Linked DNA regions of Homo sapiens. The protein of the gene in region 2 interacts with the protein of the main gene of each other region in a pairwise test. Each region holds a gene or a part of one and is shown on either strand. Other genes may lie near its edges.

Region 1 (3,500 bases), on a different chromosome or scaffold from region 2:
CAAGCTAAGCTTGCCTGCCCACCTCCTCACCCACCTAGGCCCCACCTGATGCAGAACCCAGGCCTCAGTACCTCTCATCCTCCGACCTCCTCGGCCACTCCCTGACCTCTGCCACTTAAGCTACCCATTGACTGTTAAGATGTCACAGCCACCGGGCCTCTGCACATCTGGCCAGAAAGGCACGAAGCCGCACCCCCGAGCGCACACTGCGGCCTCCCCCACACCTGCCTTGTCCTTCTACTGACTCTCCTTGCTTCTCCAGCCCTTGGGGACAGAGACCCCTCTGCATTCAGGGGTGCATCCAGTTTGAGGCAGCAGTGAGACACCCATTCTGCCGGCAGAAGCCTGGGTCAGGGTGGGCGCAGGTCCCAACTCTGGCCAGATGGGGCAGGTGGTGAGGTCTCTGAGGAAGGGACCCGGCTCATAAGGAGGCCCTGGACAAGATGACCTGCCTCTCTCTCCGTCTTGGGGCCGCCTGGTCTAAATGTGACCAGGTACCCCTGGAGCCCTCCAGAGCCCCACTCCAAGGGGACCAGGACAAAGCCAAAGATAAGGGAGGTGGGGTGTCAGGTGGAAGGTGTCGCCCCTCACTGGGCGCTCAAGTCAAGTCTCGGGGCTGACTGTGCCCTCCAGTTTGTGCACCCAAAGCCACCCTACAGGATGACCCCCAACTTCTGCACTGAATCCCACCCCTCCCACTGTCTGAGGGACACTGCTTATTGATATTTCTTCTATCTCTTATTTCTCCAACTCCTCCCTCTTTACCCGTCCCTCCCCAGCAGCATCTAAACACATTGGGCTGGGCATGATGGCTCACGCCTATAATCCCAGCACTTTGGGAGGACAAGGCGGGTGATCACCTGAGGTCAGGAGTTCGAGACCAGCCTGGCCAACATGGCCCTGTCTCTACTGAAAATGCAAAAAATTAGTCGGGCGTGGTGGCGGGCACCTGTAATCCCAGCTACCTGAGAGGCTGAGGCAGGAGAATTGCTTGAGCTTGCAAGGTGGAGGTTGCAGTGAGCCGAGATGGCGCCACTGCACTCCAGTGTGGGTGACAGAGTGAGACTCCATCTCAAAAAATAAAAAAGGAAATAAATAAACACATCAGAATATTCTGGGTTGGAAACTTCTCCCTTTACCCCATGATCCCTCTCTAAACGATTTCTCAGACAAGACTCACTCCAGATCTTCACCTCCCCTTTATCTCAGCCTGGTGCCTGCTTGCCACTCCCCGCACCCCCCTCCTTCCCCCAGGCAGCTGAGGACACCCTCACTCAACTCAGCCCCCCGGGCCTGTCGCAGGTGCTTGCCTCCCTTGGCCTCCATGTGTTCGCCCCCTCAGTCCCTTTCTCCCCCTTTACCAACCCCTCTCCCGTTGGACCCTCACATGCTGGGGTGCGCGGCCTGTGTTCTGAGCCCTGTCCTCCGCTCTACGCAACCGCCGGGCAACATGAGCTACTCATTCCTGTGGCTGCGATTGTGCATGGTGTGATTCCTAAATCCATCATCTCCATTCTGGATTCCTGAGCTTTGGCCCTAACCACCAACTGCACGGCCCACTGTGTTTCCAAGGGGCCTGTGTTTCCTCTCACCCCCTACACCTATGTCCCCTCCTGTGCTCCCCGCACCATGGTTGGCACCACCATCTGCCCAGAAACCCAGGCCAGAAGTAGCATGTGCCTCCCAGTGACGAGCCACATAGTGTCAAGGCGGCCTCCGAGACATCACTCCAATCAGTCTATGTCCCCGCTGTCACCACCATGGATCTGCTGTCACCTGCGTCACCCCAGAACCGGTCTTCCTGCATCAGGTCCCATCCCTCTACCTCTTTTTGACATGGCAGTCATGGTATTGCCACTTATGGAGTGGTCCCTGGGCTACCCAGCGGTGACAGACGGTTATGGAACCAGAAAGGGAGCATTTCAAAACCTTTCTAGCAGCGTGATGGTTCACGGTCCACATTGTTACTGTGCTTTGCAGAAGTTTTGGTCCACACACAACAGGTTAGAAACTTAAAACACAACACCAGAAATGGTCCTTCACCACAGAGTTCGTGAAGCTCCATTCTACAACAGTTGAGGCCCAGGCTTTAAGGCGTGGGGTGCAGAACTGGCTGTACTGTGGCTAACCCAGCTTCACAACACAGACCTAAACCTTCCACGAGTCTCTCCCACGCTTCCAGGATACACTCCTCACTCCTCTCCAAGCCAGGTCCCCGACTCCTCCCCAAGCCAGGCCTCCAACTCCTCCCCAAGCCAGGCTCCCAATTCTGCACCCCCACCTCTGGCCACTCCAAGAACCCCTCCTACTCTGGGCTTCAGCCACCCTAAGCTCTGGGTTCCCCATTCCCTCCAAGGGCTCCTTCCTCTGCCCGGAACACTTTTCTCCCCTTGTTTTCACCTGGCCAACTCCAACACACCCTTTACATCTAGCCAAGATATCATCACCCACAGAAAGCACTTCTTGGCTGGGTACGATGGCTCACGCCTGTAATCCCAGCACTTTGGGAAGCCAAGGTGGGCGGATCATGAGTTCAAGAGATCAAGACCATCCTGGCCAACATGGTGAAACCACATCTCTACTAAAAATACAAAAATTAGCTGGGTGTGGTGGCGCACGCCTGTAGTCCCAGCTACTTGGGAGGCTGAGGCAGGAGAATCGCTTGAATCTGGGAGGCAGAGGTTGCAGTGAGCCAAGATCTTGCCACTGTACTCCAGCCTGGGCAACAAGAGCAAGACTCCATCTCCAAAAAAAAAAGAAAGCACTTCTTGGCTTCAATCTTCCTGGGCTATAAGCATAAGCACCCTCTCCTTCCTCATAATGGCACCAGCTTCCAAGTGGCCACCCCCCCGCCCCAGAAAGGGAAAGCAGCCCTTAGCTCAGTCACCCAAGCCAAAGCACCGTCTGAGGTGTCTTCCTCCCCTGCTCATTACACCATCAGGTCGTCAATATGCAACTGGCGCCCAAGTTCATGGATTCTACCCCTTCACCCCACCTGCCCCCCATGCTCCCTCCCTCAGGCTCAACCTACTGACTTAATTCAGACCCCACCATCTCTCACCTAAACAACTGCCCTGTTTGCTCCCCTGCAGGCCTCACTGCTCCCCAGGCTGGTCCCTGTAGCTTGTCCTACACCACCGGCCACACAACCCAAGCCACCCTCTCCCTTGTTTAAAACTCTTGTGGCTTCCCGCTGCCTTTAGAAACGGTTTTTTTTTTTTTTTTTTTGAGACGGAGTCTCGCTCTGTCGCCCAGGCTGGAGTGCAGTGGTGCGATCTCGGCTCACTGCAAGCTCTGCCTCCCAGGTTCACGCCATTCTCCTGCCTCAGCCTCCCAAGTAGCTGGGACTACAGGCGCCCGCTACCACGCCTGGCTAATTTTTTGTATTTTTAGTAGAGACGGGGTTTCACCGTGTTAGCCAGGATGGTCTCGATCTCCTGACCTCGTGATCCGCCCGCCTCGGCCTCCCAAAGTGCTGGGATTACAGGCGTGAGCCACCG
Region 2 (3,500 bases):
GCAGGGTCAGTGATGCGGTGCCCACTGCGTCACAGCAACCCTCCTCACCACAGGCGTCCTTCTGGCTCTGGGGCCACTGGCTGAGAAAGAGGCTCCCTTGACCCTTTTTTGGCTCCTTGGTGCCAGGGCTCCATTCTGTAGCAGGAAAGAAACTGAGTCAATGCCTCTGGAAGGCCAAGTGCTGGATGCTGGAAGCACCTTTTTGTGGACTAAATGATGAATCCTCTGCAGCACACACCTGAGGCTTGGACCACTTTGGGGGACTCTCTTTCAGCCAAATACAATCCCAATCTCTCCCTGAAACCCTCCCTGGCCCCTGCCCCCCGATCTCATGCATCCATCAATCCATCCATCTGTTCATTCATCCACCCATCTGTCCATCATCTTTGCCTTTCTTCCTTCTATCCGTCTACTTATCCATCCATCCATCTGTCCATCCATTTGTCTGACTATCCATCTTTATCTTCCTGCCTTCCTTCCATCCATCCACCCCTTCATCCTTCCTTCCATCATTCCTTTATTCGAATTACCTTTCTTTTCTTTCCTCTCCTTCCTTACTTTTCCTCATTCCTTCCACTATTCCTTCTCTCCAACCATCCATAGTGCCAGGCTGCGAAAACAAGGATGTTGTGGACACAGTTCCTGCCTTCAGTGAGCACATGGCTTAGTGAAGGAGTCACACATTCTTACAGAACATGTGGTCTGAGCCACACACTTTGGTCTCTCATTCTGGATTCTACTTTTGTTTTATTACTCACAGGTGATTCAGCTCACTTGTCAGTGCCAGGCCTTGACCTGAGTGCTGGGGACACAGTTGTGAGTCAGAGCTAGACTGTGCCCTGCAGGAGCTCATAACAAGAAAAAAAGAGAGACATGCCCAGAAATAGCCCCAGGATAAGGTAGATGAACACCATGAGGTGGCAGAGGGAAGAAATGGAGAACAGGGTGGCTGAGGCTGCTTCTGTCTGAGAAGGTTCCTTCCAGAAGGAAGTAGGGTTGCAGCGAGGCCTTACATCCAGGGGTATTGGGGAGGAAGGCATGGCAGGCAGGGATAACTGTGGGCAAAGGCCTGGAAGCATCAAGGAGACATTGTGAGTCACTGGATATGGCTAGAGTGTGGAGCAGGGACAAGATTGGTGGCAGACACAGGTTTCTCACTAAAGAGACTGAGCATTTATTCTCCCAATGCAGACATACTTTGGGGACCATCACAGGATCCTCCACAGCAGTGGTGGGAAACCTGGCCACCCACCAGATGGCTGTGCACTGTGCTGCCCAATAGCAGGCACCGGGATCTGTCTGGATGCAGCCAGAAAGGACCTGTGCCTCAGTGTTACCTGTTGATAATAATAGACCAGATCCCACCAGCTTTTGGCCCCCTAGCCCAGCGGCTTGGGGGCTGAGCTTCGGGGCTAAGGCTGTCTTCCTAGCACTATTCCAGCAAAGGAAAGAGCTGCTCTAGCCTGAGCCAATTTAGAAGGAAACAACATTTTTAGCAAAACATCCCTAGAGTCTTTTCCAGGAGTTCCTCCGGTTGCCGAATTCAGCCCCTAGCCTGTGAGCTGAAATAACAGTACCCACTGATAATAGCCCTTTCCCCAGAGACACACACACCTGCAGCTTCCCACTCATATTTACAGATGCCTTAAACATCTACGAAGCTCCCTCGTCCCAGGTCTGGGCACACAGACATAGACACACTCCTATCTGTTGTTCCTTTGACTTAGTTACACATACACAAGTACATACATGACAGACATATGCACAAATGTGTACACAGACATGCTTAGACACACCACTCTTGCATTTTCTCTAACAAATACACTAAAACCTTCAAAACTCCTTTTGGCACACTTTTGCTCACACATTCGTACACACAGACATGCACCAATGGTGGGTGGGGTGGGTGGGACCAGAACTGCCTCCAGTCCAGCAGCCCCATCCAACAGGGAAATATCTATGGGTCCCTTCTGGAGAAGAGGTAGGAGGAAGGTCTCCTCTCTGGGAAGAGCTCAACCGTCTCTCTCCTACAGCTCCCCATCCTAAAGCCCTCTGGCTCCTAGAAGCCTGTCCAGGACCCAGAGTTCAGCTTGCTATCCACAGCTCTGATTCCTTGGCCTTCCTGCAATGCTCCAGGACACAGAATGTTCAGGATGACTTTGCTCTTATTTTCTCAGGTAGATTAATTTGGACCCTCCCAATACGGGTGTCTCTCAGTTATCCATCCATGCTCATAGCCCAGAGGAAATTGTTCTTTTGGCTAACATGAGTATGATCACTCTCTTAGTGACTGCTGACTCTAGGCAATGGCCATGGCCATCAGCCTACCTTCTTGGAACCATATAGTCTGACTGGTTAGATCAGAACAACACACAGAATCCTGGGCATAAAGTAGGAGAAGCTTGGGAGGTGGCTGGCTTTCCTGGGAAGAATGTGAGCTCCTCAATAAAGTAAGTCCCAGGAAACAGATCCCAGAGTCAACAGTCTGCACTATGCCTGGATAATTTACGCATCTACCCAATACCCCAGAGAGGGAGGACCAGGCCTCATGTCCTCAAGGTACCTCCATGAGATAGATGCCAAATGACCCCAGCTACCAATCAAATTTCTCTTCTATACATCTTGGCATCTCCATGCTGTAGTTTCACCCTGAACCCAGCTAGGGTAAACACTTCCTTCAATGTACTCTGGACACCCGTTTGATTCCAAAGTTAAGCCAATTACTACATGGCGCCTATTTCTCTTCTCAAAGTATGTTGAGATCAGGGCCTCTGGGTTTGCTTACAAAAGCTGTGCCCTGCACAGGGGAACCCAGCAAAATAAGCCTGTGGGGGCTGGAAACAGCCCGTCCCTCGGGGCTGTGCCCACCAGAGAGGCTGCTTTGTCTTGCTTTGCATGAAGATGCTTTATGTACATGCTGCAGCCCTGATTGGCTTCCTGGGAAGGACCTCCTCCTTGCAGGCCCACTCTACCCCAGTTCCAACCCCACTCACCCATCAAGTGGTGCCTCTCCACAGCAGGGTCAGCCTTGGGCTTGGAACAGATCTTGGCAAACACTGGGAGCTGCCTCTTCTGAGCAGGGAGCTCAGGGAGCTTGTCAGGACGTGCAGGAGGAGGTCGGGGAGGCAGCAGCAGAAATGGGCTCAGCCCTGTGGGCTCCTTGGGTCCAGGGCCACTGAACAGGTTGTCCTGTAGGAAGTCCTTGGTGACCCTTGTCTTGTCCAGCACATTCTTGTTGTCAGGGACCTTGGATGTCTCAGTGGACTTCAGTGGGAACTGGGACAGAAGCTTGCTGACTTGCAAGTTGGAGTCACCTAGGATGCGGCCCCTGTCCTCTGTCCCCTTGCTGCTCTTGACCTCGGCGGCACACAGAATGTCTGTGACAGTAGAAGTGGCAGAATCACAGTCCTGCCTGCTGCTGATAACGGGCATGGCCACCTTCTGCTTCAGAAGCTTGTCTCCGACAATGATGGAGGCTCTGGGGCGCTCATTACTGCCTG

What was found.
Region 1: the proteins of C1orf94 (region 2) and CHERP interact in binary tests that used the Homo sapiens proteins (3 or more experiments, as listed by UniProt).

Annotation. Positions count from the first base shown.
Region 1 is NC_000019.10:16,535,938-16,539,437, forward strand, and holds part of CHERP (calcium homeostasis endoplasmic reticulum protein), read right to left. Parts: intron 1-3,500. UniProt on the Homo sapiens protein: Involved in calcium homeostasis, growth and proliferation.
Region 2 is NC_000001.11:34,197,407-34,200,906, reverse strand, and holds part of C1orf94 (uncharacterized protein C1orf94), read right to left. Parts: coding exon 2,994-3,500; intron 136-2,993; coding exon 1-135.